7 linked regions of the Homo sapiens genome follow. The protein of the gene in region 1 purifies or fractionates together with the protein of each later gene. This does not show direct contact. Each region holds a gene or a part of one and is shown on either strand. Other genes may lie near its edges.

What was found.
Region 2: the proteins of UGT2B7 (region 1) and SLC27A5 purify together in Homo sapiens (co-immunoprecipitation; one study listed by IntAct). This does not show direct contact.
Region 3: the proteins of UGT2B7 (region 1) and MAOB purify together in Homo sapiens (co-immunoprecipitation; one study listed by IntAct). This does not show direct contact.
Region 4: the proteins of UGT2B7 (region 1) and APMAP purify together in Homo sapiens (co-immunoprecipitation; one study listed by IntAct). This does not show direct contact.
Region 5: the proteins of UGT2B7 (region 1) and MPC2 purify together in Homo sapiens (co-immunoprecipitation; one study listed by IntAct). This does not show direct contact.
Region 6: the proteins of UGT2B7 (region 1) and MTTP purify together in Homo sapiens (co-immunoprecipitation; one study listed by IntAct). This does not show direct contact.
Region 7: the proteins of UGT2B7 (region 1) and ACAA2 purify together in Homo sapiens (co-immunoprecipitation; one study listed by IntAct). This does not show direct contact.

What each region holds. Positions count from the first base shown.
Region 1 is NC_000004.12:69,109,320-69,113,801, reverse strand, and holds the end of UGT2B7 (UDP-glucuronosyltransferase 2B7 isoform 1 precursor), read right to left. Parts: intron 1,346-4,482; coding exon 1,066-1,345; 3' UTR 815-1,065; downstream 1-814. UniProt on the Homo sapiens protein: UDP-glucuronosyltransferase (UGT) that catalyzes phase II biotransformation reactions in which lipophilic substrates are conjugated with glucuronic acid to increase the metabolite's water solubility, thereby facilitating excretion into either the urine or bile.
Region 2 is NC_000019.10:58,508,585-58,513,667, forward strand, and holds the start of SLC27A5 (long-chain fatty acid transport protein 5), read right to left. Parts: upstream 3,409-5,083; 5' UTR 3,372-3,408; coding exon 2,684-3,371; intron 2,540-2,683; exon of another isoform or gene 2,347-2,539; coding exon 2,137-2,346; exon of another isoform or gene 1,422-2,136; coding exon 1,263-1,421; exon of another isoform or gene 1,200-1,262; intron 1-1,199. UniProt on the Homo sapiens protein: May mediate the import of long-chain fatty acids (LCFA) by facilitating their transport across cell membranes. Also catalyzes the ATP-dependent formation of fatty acyl-CoA using LCFA and very-long-chain fatty acids (VLCFA) as substrates.
Region 3 is NC_000023.11:43,766,722-43,771,203, forward strand, and holds part of MAOB (amine oxidase [flavin-containing] B), read right to left. Parts: intron 2,698-4,482; coding exon 2,586-2,697; intron 1,996-2,585; coding exon 1,933-1,995; intron 898-1,932; coding exon 745-897; 3' UTR 1-744.
Region 4 is NC_000020.11:24,975,193-24,979,674, forward strand, and holds part of APMAP (adipocyte plasma membrane-associated protein), read right to left. Parts: intron 3,691-4,482; coding exon 3,575-3,690; intron 1-3,574. UniProt on the Homo sapiens protein: Exhibits strong arylesterase activity with beta-naphthyl acetate and phenyl acetate. May play a role in adipocyte differentiation.
Region 5 is NC_000001.11:167,926,855-167,931,336, forward strand, and holds part of MPC2 (mitochondrial pyruvate carrier 2), read right to left. Parts: intron 1-4,482. UniProt on the Homo sapiens protein: Mediates the uptake of pyruvate into mitochondria.
Region 6 is NC_000004.12:99,619,358-99,622,676, reverse strand, and holds part of MTTP (microsomal triglyceride transfer protein large subunit isoform 1 precursor), read right to left. Parts: intron 1,617-3,319; coding exon 1,446-1,616; intron 1-1,445. UniProt on the Homo sapiens protein: Catalyzes the transport of triglyceride, cholesteryl ester, and phospholipid between phospholipid surfaces. Required for the assembly and secretion of plasma lipoproteins that contain apolipoprotein B.
Region 7 is NC_000018.10:49,788,778-49,793,259, forward strand, and holds part of ACAA2 (3-ketoacyl-CoA thiolase, mitochondrial), read right to left. Parts: intron 3,551-4,482; coding exon 3,375-3,550; intron 2,823-3,374; coding exon 2,693-2,822; intron 1-2,692. UniProt on the Homo sapiens protein: In the production of energy from fats, this is one of the enzymes that catalyzes the last step of the mitochondrial beta-oxidation pathway, an aerobic process breaking down fatty acids into acetyl-CoA.

The sequences.
Region 1 (4,482 bases):
CTAAGTGAAGTAATTCAGGAATAGAAAATTGAACATCATAAATTCTCACTTACAAGTGGGAGCTAAGCTATGAGGATGCAAAGGCACAAGAAAAATATAATAGGCTCTCAGGATTCAGAGGGGAGGGTGGGAGGGGGTGAGGGATACAAGATTATATACATTGAGTGCAGGGTACACTGCTCACATGATATGTGCACCAAAACCTCAGAAATTACCACTAAAGAACTTACCCATTTAATCAAACACCACCTGTTCCCAAATAACTATTGAAATAATTAAAAATATGAGAATAAAGTCAACCAGATGTATATTTTTAAATATCTAGAAAAAATAGAATTGGCTCATGAAACCAAAGATGTTACAAAATAGTTCAATTTTACAGTAGGAAGAAGGTAAGAGTTGCTGTATTTCTAATTCCCCATAATTTCCACTGAGAAATGACTTAAGCTCTAAAACAGTAAACACTTGGCCATAAATTTTAGGAAAAATATGAGAATAAAGCTGCATGCATTATAAAAGCCAAGCAATACTACTCATCTTAAAATATCAAAAGGAAGAGAGACTTTCTGTACAATTTAACTATGTAATAGTTTCTTTAGCAGCAGTTAAAACAATACAATCCTGTTCAAAATGAAGCCAAATTATTCTGAGTATGTGCAAAACAGTACTGATACTGTCAGTGGACTTCTTAATGATCTTGTGTTTATGTACAATGTGTGAAATATAGTTAAGCTGAGTAAATTTTTTTGTGAGTATACTGTGAATTAGAACAACAAATTTCAATATAAGTTCAACAAATTTCAATACGAGCTCATAAGGCTTTATCTTATTTTTTATTTTCCGTAGTGTTTTCTTCATTGCCACAAAATATTTCTAACCATGAACTGGGTGGTAAATCTCTGAAAAACAAATTTTTATTTGACAAAGTAAATTTTGAAAAGATTTTTTTTTCTTTTTTTTTTTTTGTCTCAGGAAGAAAGAAATCTTGCATCACAATCTTTCTTGCTGGAATAAACTGAAGTAGTCTCACCTATCAGGTTTTCCAGCTTCAAATCTCAGATATAACTAATCATTTTTTCCCTTCTTTGCTTTTCTAGCAAACTTCCAGAAACAAAACAGACAACATTTTGTGACGATAAATATCACAGTTGCCACACAGACCAGCAGGAACCCAATCACATCCAAAGAGTGGTACTGGAACCAGGTGAGGTCGTGGGCTGCAACCCGAAGGTGTTTAGCTCCTTTGTGGCGCATGACAAATTCAATCCAGAAGACTGCTCGATCCAGGGGCTTCACTGGTTGATCATGTTGAATTCTTGATAATTTCATAACATTCTCTTTATATCTGAAAGATAAAAATAAAGACAGTAATGTAGCAGGAAGAGTTACAGACAAAACCCCTCAGACACCGAGTTAAAGAAGGAAGGGTTTTATTCGGCTGGGAGCATCGGCAAGACTCCTCTCTCAAGAGCTGAACTCCCTGAGTGAGCAATTCCTGTCCCTTTTAAGGGCTCACAACTCTAAGGGGGTCTGCGTGAGAGGGTCATGATCGATTGAGCAAGCAGTGGGTACATAACTGGGGGCTGCATGCACCAGTAATCAGAATGGAACAGAACAGGACAGGGATTTTTACAATGCTTTTCCATACAATGTCTGGAATCTATAGATAACATAACTGGTTAGGTCAGGGGTCGATCTTTAACTATCAGGCACAGGGTGTGGCACTGGGCTGTCTGCTTGTGGATTTCATTTCTGCCTTTTAGTTTTTACTTCTTTCTTTGGAGGCAGAAATTGGGCATAAGACGATATGAAGCATGGTCTCCTCCCTAATACTGAAAGTAAGTTAATTTGCCTGTCCATATCAAGTTTACGAAAGGCTTTTAAAGGGCCAAATAATTCAAAATAAATGTCAAAGAATTGACATCGAATTTGTGTATTTTAATTTGAGTCATCATAGAAAGTTTGGCTTTTAAATTGGACTTCTCTCATTGAGAAATATTTTTAAAGTAGAAATTGAATGTTAGCTGAGAAAGTTAATTTTTTTTGAAGCAGAGAAAATATAAGGCATTTTTAATTTGTTTTTAATTGTTTAAGTTTTTGAGGGTACATATTAAGTGTATATATTTATGGGGTATATGAGATGTTTTGATACAATATGAAATAATCACATCATGGAAAATAGGATATTCATCCCTTATGCATTTATCCTTTGTATTATGAACAATCTAATTACACTCTTAGTTCTCAAACAGACATACGGAGAACATGCTCAACATCATGAGCCCTTTTAAGTGCTATGAGAAAGATCGTGAAAATGCAATATGAGAATTATCATCTCTAAGTTCCGAAAAAGTAATTGTGTCATGGTGAGTGACGTGCCTCATAGCTAGTCACTTTGCTTCTACATTACTCTTTTGTCTCCTACTCTTTCCCACCCTGTAGCCAGAATGATTTTTTCAATTAAAGTCAGTTTAAAGCACTCCCCTGATTAAGACTTTTGCCTGGCTTCTCATTATTTTTAGAATAAAATCCAACTCTGTTATTTGGTCTACAGAACCCTACATTTTTAGACACGGGCAAACTCTTTTCCTAACACTTTTCCCCTGCACACTGTCTTCTAGATTGGCCTTCTATTTTACTTTAAGCTCCCAAAGGTGTTCTCATCTTAGTACCTTACACATTTTTTTCCCCTCTCTCCCGCTCTTGGAGTACTCTCTCTTGCTACAACCCAAGGAATGCTTCTCTCCCTTCTTGTGGCTTCCTTCTAATGTTACCTCTAAGAGAGGCTTTTACTGGCCACATTATGATGGAACCACTAGGATTTTCTCTATTTTCTGTGCTTATTTTGCTATTTGAGTCCTAGAATTTTAAAATGCATTATATATCTCATAAAATAAACATTTAAATATTAAATACAAAAGATAAATATTCATACACTAAGTGAATAGTTCAAAAATGTAAGATCATCTTGAACATTATCTTGAGGTGAAGATATCGATTTACCTACTGTTCAGATTGTGGTATAGGATATCACAACCTGCCTAGAATAACTCTCTTTTTCTGAACCATTTAGTCACCACTTTTGTCCACCAACTAAGGATTAGCCTGACTTCGAATAGCATACATTAGTTTGCTTGTTTATGTAATTGAATTATATAATACGTACTCATTAGTGTCTTTTTTTAATGTAGCAGTTGTTGGGTAATTCCATTGCTGTGTAGTATTCTGTTGATTGATAAAGCACAGATTATGTCTTCATTTTATGATTAATAGATATTTGGGTTGCTAACAATTTTTGGACAATATTGATAATTCTGTCATAAATATTCTTCTATATGGTATTAGATTTATTTATACATATCTGTTGGGTATATAACTGGGAGTAGAATTGTTGAGATAAAAGTGGAGACATAGTTGTGATTCACCTCTTGATCTCTAAAATTTAAAGATATGTTAGTTATAGTTTTTATAACCTCCCTTACTTCCACTATGGCTGGATCATATAGTCTTTATGATATTGAACCTTATTATATGTACTAAATCTTGATTTATTGCCCACCACATATCACTTCAGATAACTATTCGACATGCTCTAGGAAAATGTGTCTTCAAGTTGATATATATGATACATATATGTTTATTGTGTGTGTATGTATGTGCGTTTGTATCATTTTACATTATAAGATTCCATTTGTTAATTGTGTTCTTCAAATGTTTTATGTCTTTACTAATTACTTGCTCTTTTCTAAAGTCTGTTTAGATTGAGTGAAAGTATTTGTATAATCATATTTAAATCTACCAATTTGCTTTATATATTTTTTTTCTATTTGTCCAAGCTGGTTTGTGTTCTTTTTCAATTATTTCCTATCTTCTTTAAAGGTATTTTTATCATTCATTATCCTTCTTTTTTTGTGATAAAGTATTTTTCAAGTATTCCTTTAGATGATACCCTGCTTATATAAAAAAACATTATTGATAGTAGCTATAAATGCTGAATTGATGGTAGCTGGACTCCACAAGGAATTTTGCACATTGATATCTTTGGGTTTGAAAAAATCAATTATTAAAAATTTAACTTAAAATTATATTTTTTGTGCTTCAAAGACCAACATCAAAAAGTAAAATTTAGTGCACCCAGAGTGGGACAAAATATTTACAAGTTATATATCTGACATGACCCATAATATATAAATAGTTCTTAAACTTAATAATAAGACAAATAGCAAAGTTTAAAAATGTTCCAAGGATTGGATAGACTGTTTTCAAAGAAGATATATGAATGATCAGTAGGCACGTATGAAGATTCTCAACACCTTTAGCCGTAATGAAAATGCAATCCAAGACCAGGATGAGAGATCATTTTACACCCACTAAGAAGGCTGTAACAAAAAGTCAGGGAATAACAGGTTTGGCAAAAGTATGGAGGAATTGGAACCATGTTGTACTGCTGGTGGTAGTCATGAATGAAACAAGTACTTTGGA
Region 2 (5,083 bases), on another chromosome or scaffold:
AAATATTAGGGGCAGGTTCCCCCGATACCACCATGCGTGGCTTTTTAAAATTTTTTTTTAACAGATGGCCTCTTACTATGTTGCCCACGCTGGTGTTGAACTCCTGGACTCAAGTGATCCTCCTGCCTTGGCACCCAAAGTGCAGGGATTATAGGCATGAGCAACCACACATGGCCATGATAATAGCTGGAAAACACAAAAAGGCCGGGCGTGGTGGGTCACACCTGTAATCCCAGCGCTTTGGGAGGCAAATGCCCGCAAATGTGGGCAGATCACAAGGTCAGGAGTTTGAGACCAGCCTGACCAACATGGTGAAACCTAGTCTCTAGTAAAAATACAAAAATTAGCTGGGCGTGGTGGTGCGTGCCTGTAATCCCAGCTACTCAGGAGGCTGAGGCAGGAAAATCGCTTGAACCTGGAAGGCGGAGCTTGCAGTGAGCCGAGATCATGCCACCGCACTCCAGCCTGGGCGACAGAGCGAGACTCTGTCTCAAAAAAAAAAAGAGAGAGAGAGAGAAAATAGCCAGGTGCGGTGGCTCACACCTGTAATCTCAGCACTTTGGGAGGCCAAGGCAGGTGGATCACGAGGTCAGGAGTTCAAGACCAGCCTGGCCAAGATGGTGAAATCCCGTCTCTACTAAAACTACAAAAATTAGCCGGGCGTGGTGGTGGGCGCCTGTAATCCCAGTTACTCAGGAGGATGAGGCAGGAGAATTGCTTGAACCCAGGAGGCAGAGGTTGCAGTGAGCCAAGATCATGCCTCTGCACTCCAGCCTGGGTGACAAAGCAAGACTCTGTCTCGAAAAAAAATAAATAAATAAAAATTAAAATAAAAAAAAAAGAGAGAAAACAAAAAGAACAAGCTATGGAGAGGTCCCCATCTAGACTCTGAATCAAGAGTCCAGAGAGACAGCCCTGTGGAGTGCTTGAGAGCACTCCTACTCCAGCTGCCCTTGGGGCCATGTCACAAATCTGGGCCAGCATCCCCATCATCTCCTGAGCACCACACCTTCCTTGGATGCCTGTGACCATCACTCGTATCAGGTCTTGTCACCTCCTGACCAAAGCATGGCCATCAGGGACTGTGTGGGTGTCCAAGCTTCTGTCCATGCGGCCCTGGTAGTCATTGGTGGGTGTCCCTTCTCAAAAGTGAGAACACAGGGTGCTGGGTAACCTATGGTGTCTTTTTGCCTTGACAGCCCCACGCCGACACTTACTCCCGTGGTCCTGTAGACTGGAGGGATCCTCAGAAGTGGGCTTACCGAGATCTAAGCAGCCGAGGATCCCAACGACAAGTCCCATCACGTGGTACAGAGGCAGGACCGTGTAAACCACATCATCAGCTGTGGCCCCAGATAAGGACAGCATCTTGCTCATCTGCAGTACCCGCTCATGCGTGAGGATGGCTGGCTTCGGGAGGCCTTGGGATGAAGGCATGGCAAGGGCAGGGTGGTGACATGACAGCACAGAGAGGGGCCTGACCAGAGGGATAGATCTCCAACAGCCAGGCCTACATTGGGGTTTGAGGCTCTCAGAGAACAGTCAAGTATAGGGATTTGTGGTTGGGTTCACAGGCTGAATTTGGACTGAAAGTAATATGTCAAGATCAAAGGTTTCAGTGGCTGTTTACTGGACACAGGAAGAATTCTGGCATTGACCTCTCAAATTACATTGGGGGTCAGAGTTCAGGCCAAATATCAAAATCAAGTCTGGGAGCAGTGGCTCACGCCTGTAATCCCAGCATTTTGAGAGGCTGAGTTGGGCAGGTCCCCTGAGGTCAGGGGTTAGAGACCAGCCTGGCTAACTTGGGGAAACCCTGTCTCTACCAAAAATACAAAAATTAGCTGGGCATAGTGGTGTGTGCCTGTAATCCCAGCTACTCAGGAGGCTGAGGCAAGAGAATTGCTTGAACCCAGGAGGTGGAGGTTGCAGTGAGCCGAGATTGCACCACTGCAGTCCAGCCTAGGCGACAGAGCGAGACTCTGCCTCGAAAAAAAAAACAGCCAAACAAAAAACAAATGTCAAAATCAGAGGGTAAAGTGGTTTCAGAGGTCAACACTGAGTCACAAGTCAAGTGTGGGGTCAGGTCAGCCTGAGAGTTCAGAGGCTGGTGCTAGGGCTAATGGGCACCCTCACCAGTGGTCCCCGAGGTATAGATGAAGAGGGCAGGGCTTCTCCATGTGATCCCAGCACGCAGGTCAGCAGGCACTGGGTGGGAGGGCGCTGCATCCAGGGCAGCCCCCAGAGCCCCCACCCCTGGTGTAGGGGAGGTATGGCTGAGGTAGAAGCAGCGGATGTTCTCAGCCTGCAGCTTGGGAAGGATCTCCTCCAGGCTCTCCCGGAGGTCTGCAGAGATGGGTCAGAGGAGAAACAGAGGCAAGGCTCACCTTTGAGGTTGCGAGGCGGGATCTGAGACCCACAGATGCAGGCAGAGGAGCAGCTAGTAGAGAAAAGCATCCATGTTGTTTGGTAAAGAATCCCATCATTAGTATTTTTGGTCAAATTGTGGGAAAATTAAACTCTGATGACCTGAGAACTACTTTCTGCTCATAAGTCTTGATTATAATTGCCTGTGAAAGTAGGCAGGTGGGGACCAAGGGCCTCTGCCAGTCCCAGCAGAACCCCTGTCCTATAGTCCCTGCCCTTGCCCCCTTCCATTCTCCACTGGCTCCAAGGCCCTCACCTGGGTCCACCACCAGCACCCGGGCCCCAGAGCTCAGCACAGAGTGCGCCAGGGGCATCCCCCGGCCATGCGGGTTGATCCAGGCTGTTGGGCAGCCCAGCTTGGCCAGCCCCAGCCACATACACAGGGCTGGAACGGCCTGGGAAGCCAGCACAAGGAGGGCAGTAGGCTCCCCGGCACACAGGCTCGCAGGGTCACCCAGCTCAGCCTTCAGGGCCCATGCCGCCTGGCAGGCCCGGGCATCCAGCTCACCAAAGGTGACTGAGCCGGCCCCAGGCCCCGTCCACACCAAGAGTGCCCTGCCAGGCTGCGCTCGTGCTCGCCGCTCGAAGGCATCTACAAAGGTGTCAGGCGGCTGCCGGCTCAAGCATCCCCTGATCTTCAGGCCCAGGTGGAGGATCTTGGCCAAGAAGATCACATCAGCCGGCAGCCAGCGTAGTCCTGGGGGCAGCCGTGCTGGCAGGAGGGTTAGTGCCAGGGCCGCAGCTGCCAGGCTCAGCCCATGGGGCACCCAGGGGCCGAGCCAGGGCCGTGCTAACATGGCCAGCCCAAGTAGCACGCAACATGTGGGATCCCCCAGGAGCCAGCGCAGGGTCAAGGCCACAGCGACTGGCCACACTGGCTGCCCCAGGCCCCAGAGCAGGAGCAGCAGCAGCAGCAGCAAGGCCAACTGTTGCCTGACACCCATGGTACCAGCTCCTCCCTAGGAGCAGCAGCTGTGGAGTGTTCAGGCTCACCTCTGGCCCCTCAAGAGTAGCCCAATGGCTCCTCCCCAGGGGTGGTGGCCCTGGCACTGCTGACAGTGGCTGGTCCTCTCCCCAGGACTTTGCCCCCAGCCCTTCTCCTCTACGTTTGTTTGCTCTGCCTGGTCTTGTGTGTGGGTCCAGCCCCTCTCTGCCTGGCGCTAACCCTTTCCATCACTGGCCTCTGGGTTCCCAGGTCTCTGCCCCTTGGGCACCACTAGCCTCCTTCCTGCTGTCCTGCTTGCCCCATCCACCCTCCAGGGCTGGCATCTAACTCCCTTGCCTCCCCTCCCATCCCTGCTGGGTACCAGACACTCAGAGCACAGAAATCCCTGCCCTTGGGAACACTCCAATCAGGCCAAACAGAAAAGCAACAGGACAGCAAGGTGGACCTCATTGGGAGGTCCTCCTGTGACACCCACTGAAACCCTGAGGAGAGGGGCTCAGCCAGGCTAAGCCCCTTGTCCCATGATCCGAGGAATCGTACCCTCCTGCCAGGCATACAGCAAGTGCTCAGTAAATACAGGAACACTGGCATCGCCTGGATTCAAACCCAGCTCTGCCCCCCACCCATGTGCTTGCTCTGACTCTCTGCTCCACCTCTGGCTTTGACGACGATGGAGTCCTGGGGTTCAGGAGACTGAAGTCAGCCCATGATGCACACAGTTGGATCATGAAAGCCCTGGCCTCTCACCTTGAGGAAGCAGTCTCAGAAGGTGAACCCAGAGGAGCTGCCATTGGCCTAGGAGCCTGGCAGGTCAGGCTGGGGTATGGCCTGGGGCCATACCCCACTCCACCAGCTCCAAATCCTTATGGCAGGGCACCTAGGCTAGGAGCCACTATTGTGCTGAAGAGGAGAGGGGCAAAGAGTGGCTGCTCTCTCCGCTGGATGCAGGGGCCTGGGACACTGGCTGGCCAGTAGGGGTGGTGTCCCCAACCGCCCAGCAGTCAGCCCCAGGATCCCACCCCTCACTGTTTCCTGCCCCCAACACGGCCATCGGAGCCCTCCCTGAACTTTGCCCCCAGCACCAAGGGCAGATATATGGGGGCTTATATACCCTCAGTGCAACCTGGCCCCAAAGATCCCCCTGGGCTCCCCACAAGTAAGGTGCTCAGCCATGTCCATCAAGGTCGGGGAGGGGAAGTCTTAAGTCCAAAAGACCCTTAGAGCCTGACTGGAAGATCTATGGGAGGGGCCTTAAAGGTCGTGGACAGCAGCAACCAGGAGTATGATGGGGCTTTCACGTGGCCTCCCTCTCGGAGACCCACCTCAGATGTGGCCTGCCTATCCTACTCCCCACAGGACTGAGGGATCCAAGAGAACCAAGTGCTGGTTATATATGCAGCCCACCTTAGCCCCTACAGAATAGAGGTCCTAGATGGCAAAGTGGACCATCCTGTTCCTGCCCAGGACAGCCTGTGGGCCGCATGGATGCCACCCAAGAACAGGGACGCTGAACCCTGACACTCACATCTTGTCTATGAGGGCAAGGCACGCACTGATCCAGGTGCTCACAGCTTCGTGGTTTAGGCCCCATGGCCTACAGTCCTTTATTAGAGCGAGAGTCCCGAGGCCCAGCCCCCATATATGATGGGTCCACTTGAGTCTCCTTAGGCGCCCCATGAGGGAGTAACAGCTTGGGTAGAGAGCTAGGGA
Region 3 (4,482 bases), on another chromosome or scaffold:
TTAAAATCAGCTGGAGACACACCGCACAAAACAGTAAGACTTAAGGCTATATACTGAGTAGCATTTGAGAAGTGTAAGACAACTTAGCACAGAGTAAACCCACACAACGGGACACCATCGGTAACTATGACAGGGAGTGAAGGAGGATAATTGGGGAAAACATCCAAAGAGGTGGGAAAAGCGTTGGATTTGTGTTCTAGTCCCCCAGATACCAGTGGCTTATTGTGGCTCTTAGGTAATTAAGTTCCACCTCTGTGGGCTTCAGTTTGCTCAACTCTAAAACAGAAGGTGAGGACTAAATGGTCTTTACTGTCTTTCAGCTGTAACAATACAGTATTCTAAGGACGAATGCAAAGAACTAGGGAAGGTGAGGCTATTACAGGTAAGAGGAAGAACAAGCACAAAGCCATAATGGTAGGAAAAAATTCATTCCTTGTGCATGGGCAAGGTGTGTTGTGGGGCAGCAAGAACCTTAAACAAGCCAATTTAACTATTCTAAAGATTTTGAGGGCAATAAACTTGGAAACTGGTGAAACAGAACGCTAAGCCAGGTAAGGGACACTAAGCAGGGGCCACAACGGAGAAAGAGATACCATGTATTTTACAGTCAGAGTTGGATTTATCTTCATGCTCCCCGCCTCACTCCACACTATTTGTCTTCATGGAACTTTACTGCAACTCTTTCCCCAAACTCATATCCCAAATACAGTAAGAAGAGAGTGTGATTACAGACACCCTCTCTCTTTAGACTCTCACAAGTAGCCCCCTTTTGTGGGCCAGGAAGCCAAGAGCCGTTGCTGAAAAGATGGTGGTCAATCCAATCAGCCTGAGCAGGCCTGGCACGGAGGGCAAATGTCTCTCCAAAAAGGTGGTGGTGATGGGCTGTGCAGGGACATCCTAGGTTCAGAAAACATTGGGTATTAGTACAGGGCTTGTGCACTTTATTCCAGAAAGTCTGTACTTTCTCCAGCTCTCTGAACATGACCCATTCTTGCCAACGTCTAGACCAGTAAACACGATGTTCCCTCTGCTTATACTGTTTACCCTGTCTTCCTCACTGGACCCTTCACTTCCTCAGGGAGGCTTTCTTTCCTGAGACCCCAGCCTAGGATGACATTCTCCTTTTGCATTTTTTCTCAGCATGTCTTCTTCACTGTTCTGTACTTTTTGGTTATCATCTGCATTCTCCACCAGATGTTGAGCTCCACAAAAATGCTGCTGTGCCTTTGCCACAATGGCTGATACAGAACACGTGTGCCATAAATACTTGTTAGTAAATGAATCAATGGTCCCTACAGCCCACAATCCCATCCCTGGCAGAAGCACTAAGAGAATGACTGTGGAGTGGCAGGCCTATTCTCTTTGACTTCACACTTAAAAGGATAGAGCAATAATTCTGACCTTTGTGACTTTGTCCTCTAAAGTGCGTTTGCACTCTAACCTCTATGCATCCCTCCTTCCAGCCAGGAAAACTTCCTAGGATTTTATTACAAAAATGATGAGTATATTAAAAATAAAATTTTAATCTAAATATTCTCCATTTCATTCCATTTGTTTGTCCCTGGACAGGAGATGCTAACACACTTTCCTTTCTTTTCCTACCTCATGTGGAGAATCACCAGGCTAGATATTTATTTGACAGGCATTTATTGAGTTATTATTTTTAGAAGTCTCCGAGAAATGTCTCCCTCCTCATCAAAAAATATTTTTTCCTAATAATCTGTAATGAATGTGACAGCTACAAATTTATCAAAGTTCATCTAAATCTCTCACCTCTACCCTAACCCATGATACTTATTTAAACATTCATGTTTAAATCACTTAGTTGAATCACTTAGGAAAAGGTATGTGAATATATACAAGTGTGCTCTTCTTGAAAATAATGGGTTTAGAGAAAAGATATCTAATTTCATGAAATAAAACATAGCCTACCACAGACTCTGGTTCTGACTGCCAGATTTCATCCTCTGGAATCTTCCCCATGGCATGCAGGATCTGAAATGAAAGAACACACTGGCAAATAGCAAAAGTGACACCATCTTTCTTCTAATCTGCTCCCTAAAGGACTAAGTAACTGTCTCTTGAGATATCCATCAAAAACACCAAGGTAAAGGCCAGAACACTCCATACAACCTTTAAGAGGCGCCAAAAGGTCTTTCTCCTGTGGTATAAGAGGTTCCAATCATTAGGCTTACCATAAATTTTAATAGTTATGAACACACCTCAAATAGGGATGACATCAGAGGAACTGTCAGAAAATCTTTCCTGTGAAATGAATTGAATTTTGAGTCCTAATAGAAGCATGTTTGGTTCTAGAATATCAGACCTAGGTTACCTTTCAAGTATAGTCAGGTTGATCGTTTGCCCCATGGGCTCTTTTTACTTCGGGTGACATGTTAGGTATTTTCATTATTACTTCGGGCTAAGGTGTTCACTTCACCTGAGACAATAGTTAAAATAGTATTTTATGGGTCTTAAGATGGGGGTTACTGGAGAGTTGGTCTCCAGGCTCTCAGATATCTTTGACCTACATGTCAGGACCATGAGTTGCCTCCTTCCCCATAATCTATGACCCCAGACCCTACCTCTCGGGCTGCTCTCTCCCCGGCCTCTACAGCCCCCTCCATGTAGCCGCTCCAGTGTGTGGCAGTCTCGGTGCCTGCAAAGTAAATCCTGTCCACTGGCTGGCGTAGAACCCTTGGAACAAAACCAAAGAGGCAAAAGTGGTCAGTCTCAGAGAGTCAGAGAAAAGTTTTCCCATAAAGACCAATGCTGGTCAGCTTCCACAGATTCTAAACAATCAAGAAGGACATTGGCAATTTTGGAATAATGTTTATGTGGTTCCTCCAGCTCTTACATGATCCTTGTCACAAACAAAATAGAATAAAAGCCAAAGTTCACTCCTGCACCAAGAGTTGCAGGTGAAGGAGCTGACATTAATGGACGTAAATTATGTATTTGCTTCATCAACATGAAGTGAGGGACTGTGTAAGCCCAGTCACATGGCTCCCTTTATGGCTCACTGGCTCTGTGGCAAGGTGATACATGCCCCCAATTCCCCACTGGCTATTCCACTAGTGAACTTGGCAAATCACTTACTCTCACTGTGCTCTGGCTTCCTTGCCTCTTAAAGGGAATGGTCCACTGATTTCTAAGACCCTTTCAATCAGTAACATTTAACAAATCTGAGAGTCTGACTATGGCTCCATAACTCCTATTCCTTGAACACTTGCCTGTACTGGTGAGGTCGGTACTATTATTATCACCATTTTGCAGATAAGAATATGGAGGTAGACTGTGGTGGACATTGTGATGAACCACGCAGGCCCCCTTCAAGAATGAAAGACTTATTCCCAGCTGCTGGGAGTGCTGCCAGAAGAGGGCCTACTGATGTCAGCCCTCTTTGGAGATTGCCTCTGCTAAAAAAAACTATGTTACCTACTAGGTCATGCCTCCTTCCAATAGCAGTTGCATCCAGTGACTGATCACCACGGGCTGTAAATACCTGATTCCCAAGCTCCAACTTGAGACCTCCCACTCTGAAGGGCCATTCTAGTTCTGGAACTTCCTCTGGGGTCAGCTGAGGCCTTCACTGGAACTGCACTGCAGCCCAAGTTCTCCCTATGCCCACTCCTGCTTCCTTCTCCCTTCCACAGCTGCCAATCCTAAGGGCATGCCTTAATATATATCCTGTCTGCTAATCGTTGTTTCAGGGTCTGCTTCCTGGAACCTAACCAGCAACAAAGACAAAGTAATTTGCTCTCGGTCACAGCTAGTAAGTAGCAGAGTTGGTATTTGAACACAGGCAATCTGACTCTGGAACCTACAGTCTTAACCACTTAGTTATACTTCCTCTCTCTACTGCATTATTTCTTCAATCTATTAAAGAACTCTGTGATGTAGCTACTATTATCATTATCTCATTTTTACATATGAGAAGACTGAGGCTTGGAGAAATGTTCAGTGATATGCCAAGAGCCACACTCCTAGAAAATAGCAAAGCCAGGATTTGAACCATGTCTAACAGATGTCAAAGTCTCTATTTTTATCTTATATTCTTTGCCTGGTGTATCATCACCCTATAATATTTAATAGTTAGTAGACTGCCCACATGCTATACAAGGGACTGAAATGTCATAGCACTTGGCCTGTAAGAGGGGCAGTTCATTGTTGCTCTGACAAAAATACCATAAGGAAAGCACCGTCAACATGCCATTATTCATCCTGTCTCATGGTTCTCTTATATCTGATAAGCGATGTCAAGAACTAACATCCATGTTCCATCTTAGTCAACACTGTACACCACTGGGCCTTTTATTAGAAAACCAAATGAGCTGGCTTGCATTGGTGGGTTTTCTTTCACCTGCTCTGATTGTAGTCATCACAAAAAGGAGAAGAAAATACAAGGAGAGATATTATATAGAATACAGATGGTCTCCAACGTATAATTGTTAACTTTATGATGGTGTTAAAACAATACAC
Region 4 (4,482 bases), on another chromosome or scaffold:
AAAAGGAAACAAAAGGTATACAGATTGAGAAGAAAGAAATAAAACTTTCTTTGTTTGCAAGTGACATAATTGTCTAGATAGAAAATCTGAAAGAATCAACAACAACAAAAAACCCTCCTGGAACCAAGCAATTATAGCATGGTTGCAGGATATTGCAAGATATTGACTCACCTTCCTTTATACTAACAATGAACAAATGGAATTTGGAATTGAAAACACAATACTATGTACATTAGCATCCAAAAGATTGGCATACTTAGGTATAAATATAATATAATATACACGAGGTCTATATGAGGAAAACTAGAATATTCTGATGAAAGAAATCAAAGAACTAAATAAATGGAGAGATATTCCATGTTCATGGACAGGAATACTCAATATTGTCAAGATGTCAGTTTTTCCCAACCTTAATCTATAGATTCAATGCAATCCCAATCAAAATCCCAGCAAGTTATTTTGTAGATACAGACAAATGAATCCTAAAGTTCATATGGAGAGGGCGAAGACTCAAAATATCCAATACAATATTGAAGGAAAAGAATAAAGTCAGAGGACTGAAACTACTCAACTTCAAGATTCTCTATAAAGCTACAGTAATCAAGACAATGTGGTATTAGCAAAAGAATAGAAAAATAAATCAATAGAACAGATAAAATTTTTAGCCCAGAGACAGACCCACATAAATACAATCAACTGATCTTTTGACAAAGGAGTAAAGGCAATGCATAATGGAGAAAAGACAGTGTTTTCCACAAATGGTGCTGGAACAAATTTGTTTGCATCCACATGCAAACAAATAAATCTAGACACAAACCTTATACCCTTCACAAAAATGGAATTCAAAATGGATCATAGACCTAAATATAAAATACAAAACAAATTCCTAGAACATAGGAGAAAATCTAGGTATGATGATGAATTTTTAGATATAACACCTAGGGTATGATGATGAATTTTTAGATATAAAACCAAGGTGAGATACATGAAGAAATAATTAATAAGTGAAACTTCATTAAAATTAAAAACTCTTGCTCTACAGAAGATACTGTCAAAAGAATGAGAAGCCACAGACTGGAGAAAATATTGGCAAACAACATGTCTGATAAAGAACTATTATCCAAAATACACAAACAACTCTTAAAACTCAACAATAAGAAAATGAACAACCCAATTACAAAAATGGGCAAAAGGCCTGAACAGACACATCACCAAGAAGATATACAGATGGCAGGTAGGCATATGAAGATATTCCACATCAAATATCATCAGAGAAATGCAAATTAAAACAACGAGACACCACTATACACCTATTAAAAGGGCCAAAATCCAAAACACTGACACCACCAAATGCTGGCGAGGACATGGAGCATCAGGAACTCTCACTAATTGTTAATGGGAAGGCAAATGGTACAGCCACTTTGGAAACGCTTGGTGGTTTCTTACAAAACTTAACTCTTACCATACAATCCAGCAATTATGCTTTTCGGTATTTACCCAAATGAGCTGAAAACTTAGGTCCACACAAAAACCTGCCCACAGATGTTTATACCAGCCTTATTCATAACTGCCAAAACTTAGCAGCAACCAAGATGTACTTCAGTAGGTAACTAAACTGTGGCACATCCATACAATGGAATATTACTCAGTGCTAAAAAGAAATGAGCTATCAACCCATGGAAAGACATGGAGGAATTTTAAATAAATGCATACTACTAAGTGAAAGATGCCAATCTGAAAAGGCTACATACTGTATGAGTCCAGCTACATAACATTCTGGAAAAGGCAAAACTATGGAGATGGCAAAAAGATCAGTGGTTGCCATGGGTTAAAAGAAAAGGGTGGAATGAACAGGCAGAGCAAAGAGGATTTTCAGGGCAGTGAAAACACCCTGTAAGATACCATAACAGTGGATACATGGCATTTGTCCAAACCCATAGAATGTATAAAACCAAGAGTGAACCCTACCGTAAACTACAGACTCCGAGTACTATTGACGTATTGATGTGAGTACATCACTTGTAACAAACTTACCCTTGTGGTGGGGGATGTTGATCATGTGGGAGGCTGTGCATGGCATGTGTGCAGAAAAAGTATTTGACGAAATGCAACACCCAATCGTAATAAAAACTCTTTTTCAGAAAATCTCTGTACCTTCTGCTCAATTTTGCTGTGAACCTAAAACTGCTCTTAAAAATAAAGTCTACTTAAAAACAAATAAAATAAAGCCTGCTATAGTTGGTGGTTACTCTCTCCCAGCACTCCCCAGAGCTAGTACCTCCTTCCACTGTCAGCAACCTGCCAGCCAGCCCCCAGGACAGCTTCCAAATGAGGTGGCAGAGACAGCAGTGGCAGGTCCCTGCGGCTCACACCCACCAGAGAGGACCCCACTGTGCCTGGCCAAGAAATGTCACCAGCTCATCAAAGAAAGAGAAAAAGCTGGGACCTGGTGACAAAGTACAATGAGAAGTAACCCAGTGAAAAAGAAAAAGACAGGAAAGTGCTCTCTTTGGGAGGTAAGATCATTGGTTTGCACTTCAACTGCTGTTAAGTTTCAGTTTTAAAGAGCAAGATTTGATTTTTCACCAAAAAAAGCTAAAGCTTTTAAAATTTACACAAATAAATGCCAATGTCTTTTTAAGAGAAATACAAAGTTCTATCATGATATTTACTCTTCTTGAAACAATTTTGACTTTGACAGCCAAGAAAACAAACCAACTGCAGAAATGGACCAGTCCTTGGGGCCTGTGTCAAATAACAGGGCCCAGGCAAGAGAAGCTGGTCAAACGTCACTAGAAGAGAGGCCACTGACCGGCCTTGAGAGCACAACAGAAGCACCCTGTGTGCACATATCCACAGCCACCCACTGCCTGGAGAACAGTGTGCTTCAGAATAACAAGCGGCACTTCCAAAGAAGCTGCTCAGCAAGCCCATACCAGATTAAGTTTTAAACTATCTGTGACTATCTGTGCCTTCCCAATACTAAACTTAATTCTCATTTTAACAAACAGAAAATGCCTTGTTCAAGGTTGCTAGAGATGCAAGTATTAGAACCAGACCCAATTCTAGTTCTGAGGCATGGGCAAGTGTGATGCAGATGGTTACCCTTAAGTGTACCCATCAAGGTGAGATTTCAAACAGTCAGACAAAAACAGTGGAAATATTGAGAACCATTTGTCTTCATCACAGTGAAATCTATACAAAGCAAATGGAACTAAGAAATACTGTGCTGTCAAATAGCTATTTAACTTTGATAAATGAACTAAAAATCAGTATCTGTATTTGGCCTTTTTCCTTTCACAACACTTTGAGCACAACAAAGTGTTCCATAGAGATGAATTCAAAATCACCCAGTGCTAAAATGGCATGCAAACTGGGCAGATGAGACCAGCAGAAAGAGCCACTAGGGCCTCCCATGTGATGTCTGAGGGCCAAGTCCCACGTCCGCAGCTAAGAAGGATGTGCAGGGCCCCAGTCCAGGGGCAGCGTGCCACTGCAGCTGCTCCCACAGAACCCGCCCCCTCAGACAACAGACAGCCTGGAAGGCTCCCCCCCCACCCAAGCTTAGACTTACCCCCAATATGTGCTATGGACTCCGGTCCAACAAGTTGATTTTCAAACAGCCTTTCTGCCTGTCGCAGCTTCGTATTTGGATGCAGAACACCAAGCAAGAGCGGGGGTTCTTTGAAGCTGCAAAATAATGCAATTCCAGAGATCTGTCTATAAATACACATGTGAAGAAAATGTGTACCGAGCACCTGCTCTCAGTTCTTTGATAAAGATGGCACTTTCTAACAACATCCTCAGTTGCCAGAAATACAAGGGTTAAGAAAAAACTGTTCTAGGATATCAGAAAACATCATGGTACAAAAGAAATATAAAAATATAAATGTGCTAGTGCAAGACCTTCAGCAATCTTGTCACCTGAGAGCATCCTGAGGCCTGTGCCCACCCATCCTCCAGCCTCCCCAGCTCCCCACCCCCATCCAATGCCTCAGGGCAGCTGGACCTCCTCACCCCTGTGACTCACAGCCCTACAGCCACTGGAGTCTACCTAGGGTGGTGGGGGGCAGTGCCCACGTTTCACACCTGATGACCCGGCCTCGTATTTCACAGAGAAGATGGAAGGAGCAAGGGGAGACCTTCCTGGGACTGGAGCCACCGTCCCATGGTCCAGCACAGGGCACGCCACCTCCCGCTGATATTCTCGAGGCCCACCAGGCTCTTCCTGAAGCAGGAGCCTGAGCTGGGCCCTGGAGCCCTTCTACTCACAGACACGGCTCCAGAAACTCCTGCCTCTACTCGTCCTTCCCATCCACATGCCAGTATGTCACGCCTCCCAACCCACCATCAAGTTCTGCTGAGGCCACTTTGAAAAGACACCATTGAACCCGTCTCCCCATGTCCTCCTTACAACCCTGGCTGGGGCCACCATCCTCTCGCCTCGCCCCTGCTCCCTCCCTTGACCCCTGTAGTCTATTC
Region 5 (4,482 bases), on another chromosome or scaffold:
ATCAGAAACTCATCTCAGGTTGCATCTCCTCAAGGAAGCCTTAAAAAACAAACAAAAAAACTCCAGGTTAGGCTAAATTGCTCCTTCTCTTAACTACCAAAGCAGCCTGTATATTCTTCTATCATTTTCTGTTAAAATGATTATTTATGCATCTGTCACATTAACCCGAAGACAAGGTCCTTTTCTTAATCTTCCTTGACAAATAATAGGTATGTGCCAACAGAACTGAATTGGATCCACCATGTTCAGGATAGATGCTAATCAAAGATATTCAAACTTTCTGTCTGACCCAGATTTGCCTCGACACTGCTTCATCCTCAAGGCTGGAATTTGCTGTTTTCTCATCTCTAGGGACATCAGGTTCCCTTTATGCCAAGGATATATTAGATTTCACTCATTAGTTACTCTACTCTTAGACCACAGCTCTCTTCCCCTGAGTCTGATGCCATAATGCATTAATCCTATAAGTCAGTCTTCTCAAACTCTCTGGAAATTTAGGGTGAGATTCTGGGATTCCTATCATTACACCTGGTTCATTTTTCTTTGTCATACACAGTGTCTCTGGCTCATACACAGTATCAATTACTAAGTTTAGTTTTTATCCTCGCATGGAGTTTCGCTTCATCAATCAAGAGTCAGTCCATGTATTGTTTTAGTCTCTGGCTGAATGGGTGTTCATTTTTACTCTGAACTCTTCAGCAGACTTCTCTTGTTCTATTTGAAAGCTGAAGTTTCTGTCACCCCAAAATTGTTTTCTGAGTAAAGCCTCTAGATTCTGGTTTCAAGCTTAAATGGCTGACAGGCTTAAATGGTTGATCCTTTGGGGTTAATAGTCGATCTTTTCAGTAGGTTTGCCTGGTAACTAATTTACTAAACTGCCTAGAGCTAGGTAATAGTTTTACAATATTAACAACAGCCCTTCCCCACCAAACCAAACAACTGAAAAAACTTCAAACATCAAATTATGGTTGCTAGAACCTGGACCAAGAGAGGTATTTTAGTGAGTGAATAATTTTAAACTATGAAAACAAGCTCTAATTTTAGTTTAACAACTGCTATGTACTAAACAGAAAAATAGCAGTAGCCAATACATAAGGCCTTCTAAATTGCTAATTTTTCTGAGATACTAAAAGATGTGGACAAGTGACAAAAAAATCAGTTTAATATCTATAACTGCAAACAGTGTTTTCTTAACTGTTAAAAAAAAAGGTCGGCCGGGCGCGGTGGCTCATGCCTGTAATCCCAGCACTTTGTGAGGCCGAGATGGGCGGATCACGAGGTCAGAAGATCGAGACCATCCTGGCTAACACGGTGAAACCCTGTCTCTACTAAAAATACAAAAAATTAGCTGCGCGTGGTGGCAGGCGGCTGTAGTCCCAGCTACTCGGGAGGCTGAGGCAGGAGAATGGCGTGAAGCCGGGAGGTGGAGCTTGCAGTGAGCCGAGATCGCACCACTGCACTCCAGAAAAAAAAAAAAAAAAGTCACACAATGGGTTAACAAAATTTTAAAGAAAACTTAACCCTTTCATTGTAGCTAATTAACATTCAATTAACATTTCTTAGCTTTTTTTTCCTGTAAGAGTAAATAATATGTCAAATAAAGCTAGACAGGTAAATTTAGACATATATAAAACAGATACAGAGGCTGTCTTCCAGAAAACAGCAATTGATCAACAGTGGATATGGTAGCGAAAAAACATTCCAACTTACTTCAACATTTCTAAACATAAAGTTTTGACAAAACAAAGCATTTAGAAATAGGTATCACTCAAATAGTGACAATACAATGTCACATGTGTCATTCTAGACCTGGAAAACACAGGCTTATGTTCTGTACAATGACACAGCTATTCTCATAGGAGAGCATAAAAATAGATAATTATGACACGTGAAGTGATTATAATACCTTAATATTAGAATAAGCAGAAGTATAAACTAACAGATACCTGGCTAACATCCATTATGATAAATGAAATAACTTGATTAGGTGGAAAATTTGAACTGCTGAAAATATACTGAAGAAAAATCTCCTCATAAGACATTAATTTATAGCCCAAGATGAAAGAAATTGTCCACATCAAACATACTATATATTCTTTTAGAAAAAGAATTAATACATTTTCATCTTGTTTCTTTGAACAGTACTACTGGATGTTGAAGAAGGCCTCCAATGCTGACAATTTAGAAACATTAAACAAGTATTTAAAATGTCTATACATTTAGGCCGGGCGTGGTGGCTCATGCCTGTAATCCCAGCCGTTTGGGAGGCGGAGGTGGGCGGATCACCAGAGGTGGGGAGTTTGAGACTAGCCTGACCAACATGGAGAAACCCCATCTCTACTAAAAATACAAAATTAGCCGGGCGTGGTGGTGCATGCCTGTAATCCCAGCTACTTGGGAAGGTTGAGGCAGGGGAATCGCTAGAACCCAGGAGGCAGAGGTTGCAGTGAGCCGAGATTGCACCATTGCACTCCAGCCTGGGCAATAAGAGCGAAACTCCGTCTCGAAAAAAGAAAAAAAAAAGTCTACACATTTTAAACTATGAACTATGTTCAAGAATGAAAAATACTGACTATAAGTTATTTTGTGTTTTATTGCCTTATTTTTAAAGTGAAACTCATGTTTTTAAATTCTAACTTTTCATAGAATTTGAGAAATTCTACAAGTGAATATCATAAGCAAATAATAACAGACATAAATTTTCAAATAAACAAATTTAGTTGCCTTGAACTTCAATGAACCTATTAATAAACTGACATAAACTTACTTCCTAATTTCCTTATTTGAGAGAAATTACTGTTAATAAAATATTATATGAATCCTACCCAGAAAGTAGGCCACCTATCGTATATATGATTCCCTCCCTAAGTAAAGACTAACTTTTTGGAACAGAATAGGTAATTTTTACTCTCAAGCACATATACACACTTACAAATACTGGATTGAGGTATTCACTATATCCCTCTGTGAAAAATAAAGTTTCTTACTGAATGCTAAGAGGTCATAAAATCACTACATTTCCCTACCTCTTCCCATCCCTTTCATGCCACTCCTTTATGGTTTGTTACTTTTTAACACCCCTCTTAATTCCTTACATTACACAAGTTCACCTGTTTGCTATCATGTGACAAACTAGATACAAATCCTTAGAATATGTAAAGGTTAATCTTTGACATGGATACTGACGGCCAAAAAATCATTCATTTTTATTTGTGCCAAAGCTAGTTCTGATTTAACACTAAGAACATGACTAAGCTACCATTTTAGAGCCATATAATTTTAATATTTTCCACAATGCCTTGGAAATAGCTATCACTAAAATAGTACCCAAAACATCATGGGTAGATAATGTTTTTAAAAATGTTGACTGAAAATACACTTTGGTTTGAAATTCCAGAGTAAAGAACAGGTAAAGAGACTAAAATAGCTAAGATGCATTGTAGGGATGATACGTTTTAAATTTACTTATTTCTTCAGGTACAAAGAATCAGTTACTTTTAGATTTAGAAAGACTGTTGAAATCATCTACTGTAGGCACTCATAAATCAGGCAAATGAGGCCCAGTAAACAAATTACTTGTTTAAAATAAATAATCCAACAAGGATAAAAAACTAGATCCCTAAATCCTAATCTAACAATAATTATATGACTTTCCCCAATGAAATCTGAGTTTCCTGAAGGTTCTGAATGTAAGAAAAGTCCTAAGAGAATACCAAATTATAGATTATTAGCTGGAAAAGACTTTAAGGAAAGTCCAAGCTCCCTCATTTTTATAAATGAAAAAGATGAGGCACTTACAAGTTAAGTAATTTGTCTTACACTCAGGAGAGTTCTGGATAGAGCAACGACTAGAACACAGTTTCTTTGATCCTAGTCCTCTTTCTACTGTACCATACAGCACTTTAAACATATTTCATTCTCTGTTATAAGCAAAATTAATATTTTTACATGACCTGGAAATGATAAACTATTTATAGCTTAGGGCTTTCTTCTCCTTTAGCACATCTGCATAAACAGTTCTAATTTCTTAAAGTTAGTTTAAAAGCAGGATAGCACACAAAAAATATGTTAAGTGTTGAACAACTGCATCAAGGATGATAATCTGCTCTGTTGCCCAGGCTGGATTGAGTGCAGTGGCACGATCTTGGCTCACTGCAACCTCCATCTTCTGGGTTCAAGCAATTCTCCTGCCTCACCCTCCAGAGTAGCTGGGATTACAGGTGTGCACCACCATGCCCAGCTAAATTTCGTATTTTTAGTAGAGACAGGGTATCACCATGTTGGCCAGGCTGGTCTCGAACTCCTGATTTCAGGTGATCCACACGCCTCGGCCTCCCAAAGTGCTGGGATTACAGGTGTGAGCTACCGCGCCCAGCTGATATTCCTTTTTATGAATTCTTCTGAGAATACAAACTCTGTGTGGGTGGGTTTCGTTATTTTATCCACTGCTTTATCCTGAGTGCCAGAACAGTGTCTAATATA
Region 6 (3,319 bases), about 31 Mb from region 1:
CTGTACAACAACAGCAACAATAACAGAATTACACACACAGTTAAGTCACCCTATACCTCTCCAGCCAAGTTACTGAATGTACTTGAAGTTTCTGTTCCAAAGCAATCTGAGAAAGGATATGAGTGTCAAAGGCTACTCCATGAATGGGTGATTTTCTTCTCATTTCTTTTTATATCAACAGAAACACTTCAAATGCCTGGGATATGGGAGTCCTGCCATACATTTTTCTAGAATGAAAGACTAAATTCATTTCAGCTTTTTGGTGATGCCATTAAGCTTTGCAGGCTGTGCTGTGTCTCACCCTTCATTCCAGAAGCCCCACCTTGGGAGCACTCTCCTTTTGAGTAACAGGCAAGCCCAGCTGGATTTAAGCAGAGAATGCGGACAGAGAAACATTCTAAGAGCTCTGGCCCAAGGCAAATGTGGAACCAAACCAATTAATCATGTGGGTGGGTTGGTGGTCACTGCATTTCAACCATTAGAAGGTTGGGGTTTTTAAAATGCATTTGTGGAGGTTCATTCTAGATATAACTTAATGTAAGTTAGTGACAGCTTAATAGTTTAACTATAAAGCACAATCTTTTATTCTCTGAAAATACAACTGACTCGTTTACTTTTATATAATCAATGCGTTTTTTAATATGAATCATGAAATGTCAGTAAAATAATGAAGGTGCTCAATTTTGGCCTACTTAAAAAAGGAGATGATGTAAGATGTGGCTTGCTGTTTTAACTGTACAAATGACCCTTATGCTTACCGTAGGTCAACTATTATGAAAGGGTCAGTGCTACCTAGACTCAAGGCATTCTAGCTCTATGTGATAGTATTGTTACAAATAATGGTTACAAAATTCAAATGACACAGCACAAATGTTACATGGAAATTATATCTTTGTATTTTAAAACACTAACTATTTTACCAAAAGCATTATTTAAAAAAATTCAGAATCCCAAACTCTGAAACTTGAGCCAAAACTTAAACAGGGTCAAGTTGCTGCTATATGGAATACTTAAAAATTGCGAATTCATTTTGGCCCTTAAACATGGTAAATGGATTGCCAGGTGTTTTATTTGAAATCTTTTGTCCAGCAGTTTATTGTGAAGATACCAGACAGTAAATGTGTATCTGATTTTTTTTATGAAACTATGTGGCAACTCCTATGGTAAATCATAGGCCTTTCTTTCCTGGATAAATTGTTTCTGGATTAGAATATGATAACTATCTCCAGAATCAAATGAACTAGTCATTAGATTTTTTTTTGGTATCCCAGAAACTGACTTTTTTTGGCCTTATCAATTATTCTTCTACTCATTTAAAGAAAATTCATCTTTCCCTGGGTTTCTACTGTTTTGTTTTAATTCTGAAACTGAATGTTCTAAACTGAATGCAAGTTCCTGGTGCACTGGGGATGGTCCTGGAACATGACCTGAACGCTGCATCTTACCTGAATGGAGCTTCATCCTTGTCCATCTGCATGCAAACTAAGAATGGGTACTGAGAAAACTGCACTGTGGAGATAAACTCCAAGCCTGCTTCTGTTTCTGTACTGGTTTCCAGGCCAGCTTTCACAAAAGAGGAGTCCACTGTGATGTCAGTGGTTATTACCACAGTCACCCTAAACATTTGAGAAAAAAAGAAAAAACTTGTTCATATTATATTTAATGGTATTGGACTAACAGCTGTAACTTTACAGGGTCTGAACGTATGATGCCAGTGACTGGAAGGAAACACTTAAGGGATTCAGAGGTGACCTGGATGTGCTTAGAGTTCTGCTGGTAACCAGGGCCTGGTGAGTCTCAGATATTGGGCAGGGAAGGTTTGCCCTTCCCCTGAGCTCTCCCCTGCCTTCAGTTGCAGATGTGGGGAGTGTCTGTAAGATACTACATTGTTTTGTATGGGCATAACAAAGACCAAAATGAAAACATTCTTGGAACCCAGTCCTCTCAGCAGGTCAGAAATACCCAAGTTATATTAAAATGGAGTCTAAACTCACCAAGAAGACAATCGATGCTTATAGTTTTTTGTTAACTATCTCTCTGTTGGCTTCTAGGCAGCTATTTTAATTCCATTTCATTACCTTCTCCAAAGAGTCTCTAGAGGCGTAAGCCCTTGATTGCCAAGATATTTGAAAAAATATTGTGTTACAAAAAATCATTCTTACAGTGGGGCATGTACAGTAGGTCCTAGGAGGAAAAATATGGTGGGTCCTTTAATGATGCTCTAGATAACTGGATAAACAGATTGCATTGGCTGGGGAATGTGCCCTGGATAATGATGAAGAGGATAAATAATTTCAACAGAAGACTTACTTCTACTGTAATTGAATTGTGGACTTTAAATCAAACTGTGAGAAACTGCTTTCACAATTAAATGAGAGTTTTATGCCCTTATGTTTTGACAGGAATATTAATTTTTGCTGCGCAAATTAAAACCCCTGCTGCTGTTATGATCAGTGTAAAAATAGGTCAGAGGTCGTTTTAATCCCTGAATCACTTAGAGTACCTTCTGATGTCCTATATTCAGCAAAGGTTTAAAAGATATTTTTTTCAAATGAACAAGTGGAAATGGAAGACAGATTGGTTACAATATGGATAAGGGTAGATTCTTAAGGATACTGTGTACTTTTTTAAAAAATCCAAATTACTTTTTGTTGTTGTTGCTGTTGTTGATTTCTCTTTGCAAAGAATTCAATTCCATTTCATTTGGAAAAACTTCTGTCTAGAAAGTACTTTGGAAAGAGGTGAAAGATGACTGATTATGTGGGAAGCCCTAAGTTATATTGTGAACCTTTTGATGACCAGTGTCATTTTTCATTCTGTGTTTCCTTTTGGTAACACTGTGGGTCACACTTCACATTAAATGTGCTACTGTTTGATTGCTCTCAGTTCCTTCATCCATAGCTCAAGATGAATCAAAAATTTGATTTTATCACATATCTCACTTTTGCCTGAATGTGTTTTTAAATATCAAAAAATTAAAATTAGTTGCATTTCTATTTCCTTTTTAAAAATTCTGTAACAGAAGGCTAATAATTTTCATCTTCACACTAGTTCAAAGACATTGTTTTATATTCAAAGTAAAACACTTTCATTAAATCTCACAGGTAGATTAGAAAAATTAAAGGAGCTTAGAGTATTTTATTTAGAAAAAGGAATGCTGATGAAAAGACTTAAGGACTCTTAACATTTAATAGTTAGTTTCTGCACAGATGAAATTATCTATTTTATTTTTCCCCACTGAAGACAACAAAAGAGGAAAGTTTACCTTAAAGTGAAATTTCTTCTCTTGGTGGAATACCAAAAGAAGATGAACCATCTG
Region 7 (4,482 bases), on another chromosome or scaffold:
TATGCTAGGCCATAACTCGATTTTTAAAGGACTCTTCCCAGACCACTGTTATTTACTGGGACTTCAGGAAGGTTTAGTATTCTTGTTAGGAAAAGGAGACCTTATTTCTAGTCCTGGTTCCTGTCACTAATAGCTGTGCGACTTTGTGCATCTCTCTGGGCAACAAGCTACTCATCAATAGCACTCTGAATGGGTTTTCCACCTTTTTCTCTTTAAGCATCAGAATTCTTTTTGCATATGATGCCAAGTAATAGATAATGCCAGACTGCTCCAGCTGAAGAGGCTCAAAGTTCCACCCACCAACCTCTACCATTGCCACCCCTGAGGAGTTCCAGGGAGTGCTGTCTTTCTATAGCTGTGTATTTCCTCAGAACCAGTACTATTCTTTTCAAGTCATGGCTTTCCCCGTTTTTTTTTGGTCTGCAGCTATTCTGCAGGGCTAAGGATTGCTAGTCATTAGGTAATCATGGAACTGAGAACCACTATTCTTGTAAGTTAGATTAACAAACCAGTTCCCACTAGATACTTAATAACTTATTCTCCCCACTTATTCATCTGGGATGCTTCAACGAGTTACTTTGTTTAATCCCATCACTATATACAAGTGACAGCCAAACTTCTAGATGAAGGGGGCAGCTGATACTGTGGGACATCTGGAATGTACAGCTCTGTTCAAGCCCCGAGGAAAAATGACAATCCTACCACAGGAGCATTCTTTGTACTTTAGGGCAAATATTCAGGCCCAGGAACAGAAGGAAGGAAAACAACGCTTTCTTGGTTCACTGGCTATGCTAATCTACCAGAACCTATTAAATAAAGTTAAACTGAAAAAGGAGTATAAAATAGCCAACCCATGTCACATACATTTGTTTGATCATCAAAAGCATCTAGGTGTATGCAGGAAAAAAACCAACTCTGCTCTTGGGCTGGGCATGGTGGCTCACGCCTGTAATCCTAGCACTTTGGGAGGCTGAGGTGGGCGGATCACCTGAGGTCAGTAGTTTGAGATCAGCCTGGCCAACGTGGAAAAACCCTGTCTCTGCTAAAAATACAAAAATTAGCCAGGCGTGGGGGCGGGCACCTGTAATCCCAGCTACTGGGAAGAATGAGGTTGCAGTGAGCTGAGATCACGCCACTGCACTCCAGCCTGGGTGACAAAGCGAGACTCTGTGTCAAAAACAAAAAACAAAACCAACTCTGCTCTTGGGCTCCACTCTGGACTTACTGAAACAAAATCTAAGGGTGTGGGGGTTATGAGTGGATTCTGACAATCATCTGAGGTTGGGAACCACTACCCTAGATATCAAAATAATAAATGCCATAACAACATACGGATGTTTAATTTTTCCACCACCTTCCATTTCTAAGACAAAAGTTATCTTTTGCCAATAGTGGATAGCCAAAAGCTAATAAGCTTAAGATTGACTTTTCATATGTGTCAAAATATCTTGCAGTTCTTGCTGACATAAATTTGAGACACATAGTGAAAGATGACAAAATATGAACATGCCAGCTTTTTTTCTTAGGAACTCTATACAGAGATATGTCTTCTCTGAGGGACATGGCAGCAAATATGGTTGAGTATTAATCCCAAGTCAGTGTAAGTGGTATTGTTTGAGTAGAACCTGTAGGCTTACACTGAAGGATCTCTGAGATGGCAGGTCAGTAACAGGTTATCCTCCTCCTCCTCTCTTGGAACCCACCTCAGAAAACAATTTAGTTATTCAAAAAAGGGCTAAACAATCTGAAATCTATACCCTAGGGCAGGCTTTTCCTTACAGTGGGAGGTTATATGTAGGTGGGATATATCAAAGTTACTGAGCACCAAATTTTATTTTTCTAAGTAAGGCACCTAATTGGTTCCCTGTTCCCCCAGAGAATGACAGGAACTATTAAAATTCAGCATCGTGTGTGGTTCCTAGGAGTGCATCCAGCAAAAAGCTCTTTGTTCTACTTCTAAATCAAATATTTTAAGCCAAGACTATACATGTTTATGGACTTCCAAATTTTTTCCATCTAGCATTTTACCAATCTAATTATAAGTCTTTATTTTGCTAATACTCACCTGAGCAAGAGGAATATTAATTTGACTTCCTGAGACTATGCGTTTAACTCACAGTGAAGAGAGCACTTGATTTCAGAGAGACTTGGATTCACACCCTGGCTGTCACTTACTGATTTGGAACCTTGTAAGACAACCTCCCTAAGCCTCAATTTTCTCATTCACAAAGAAGTCTCCCTTACTGGAGACGTGGGAAGACTGAATGTGTGTAAAACAACCAGCAAGGAGCTGCGATACCACCTTCTCCATACAGCCTTCTCTGTTTCACCCCAGGATTTCTCCCATCTCATAATTTCTTTTATCTTGTCAGGATCACGTAATTCTTCTGTTATTTTCTGTGTTGATTTCTAAACTCTCAAAGGAACAATAAGATATAATTACTGTGTGTTGATTTTTTAAATCTCAAATGGACACTAAGATATGATTACTTCCTCCATGGAGTTTACACGGTCTTGGTTTTTCTATTGTGTCTAGGACAGTTCTTCATAAAGATTTTTTATTTAAACTGATTACCAATCTTCTTTTCTCTACAGGTGACCTTGGTTTGGCCACTTTTTCAGGACTCTGAATGCCAAAGAAGACTTACCTCCAGAAATATTATAGAACCAGTTTGTTTTACTATAAACTTACCAATACCCATGATAGAGGGATCACATCCAGATACAAAGTAGCCCACAATTCTTGCCAGTGGTGTGAAGTTATGTTTCTTAACAGCATCTTCACTAGCTATGATAACAGCTCCAGCACCATCAGCTACACCCTTGAAAATAAAAATACTAGATTAACTAAAGGCTAAAATAATCCAGTTAATCAAAGTTTGAACTAATGGACTAGTAGTATTAGGAATATGGCAGTACATAGGAAGCCAGTGCACAGTGTGAGATACAATTAGAAAAGTGGTACTGTGGTGGATGAAGGAGATTTTTTAAGGCACAGAATACAACTTTACTAAAGAACAAGGAAAAGGGTGTCAAGGAAAAACTTTTATCTAGATGTGAGTAGATGTAAGAAGAAATACGATAAACTGTATGCATGAGAAAAAAAAAAGTTTGAAAACCAAAATAAGCCAGATAGATTTGTTTCTGAAATTTCTTAGTTCTGAAAAAATTAAGAAATCAGAAGAGTATTATATAAATAAATATGAAAAGATTTTGTGTGGGTCTATGAAAACCTAAATTAATTGAATATGAACACTATTAGTTTAAGCTAAACAACTAAAGACTGGCATAAAAAGTATTTACAAGATACTTCATGATTACTTTTGTTGAACACACCAGGAAGAATTCAAGCTAATCTGTGTGGTGATACCAACCGATGCATTCCCTGCAGTAACAGTTCCATCTTTCTTGAATACTGGAGGAAGTTTCTGTAACTGTTCCAGGGTGGTTTGGGGCCGAGCATGCTCGTCTACCTGCATTGTCTGTTTTCCTTTCTTTGTCTTCACTTCAATTGGTGCCATTTCATCATTAAAGTAGCCAGCATCATTAGCTGAAAAATAGTAGAGAGACTATCATAAGAATAAAAGAGAGAAACATGAAAATAAATCAAACATATTATTCAATTTAATTTCTGATCTACCTTTTCCTCACAGTCTACTTTAATATTGAGTCTTTATTAATTTTTGAGATGGAGTCTCACATTGTCGCCTGGGCTGGAGTGCAACGGCACAGTCTCGGCTCACTGCAACCTCTGCCTCCCGGGTTCAAGTGATTCTCCTGCCTCAGCCTCCCCAGTAGCTGGGATTATAGGTGCCCACCACCATGCCCGGCTAATTTTTTTTATATTTTTAGTAGAGATGGGGTTTCTCCATGTTGGCCATGCTAGCCTCGAACTCACCACCTCGTGATCCACCCTCCTTGACCTCCCAAAGTGCTGGGATTACAGATATGAGCCACCACGCTCAGCCTGAGTCTTTACTATTTACTTACACAACTTACCTTCCGTATTGGAGGATTTACGATACCATCATGTGTTTATGTAGTTGCATTTTGCATCTTTTAAAAATTATAGAGTCTTTACTATTTACTTACACAACTTACCTTCCGTATTGGAGGATTTACGATACTGTCATGTGTTTATGTAGATGCATTTTGCATCTTTTAAAAATTATATTTTTAAAAATTATATTTTTTTAACCACAATTTTTTTTCACCAGGTACTGCTAAGACTGTTAGCAGCATCTGTCTGTTTGCTATAGATGTAATGGCAATAAATGGACTTAATACCCCTTTTAAACTTCTTTTGGTGAGATAAGCAATTAAAAAGTTACCAAGTTGTCTATGCCACAAAGTAATCTAACTGAAACTTAATAGTGATAGGCAACCTGAAGAAATTATGGGAGCAATCACTAATACAATTATAAGTAAAACATCTTACCTACTTTGACCTCCACTGACTAGAATGTACTGTAGTAATCTATA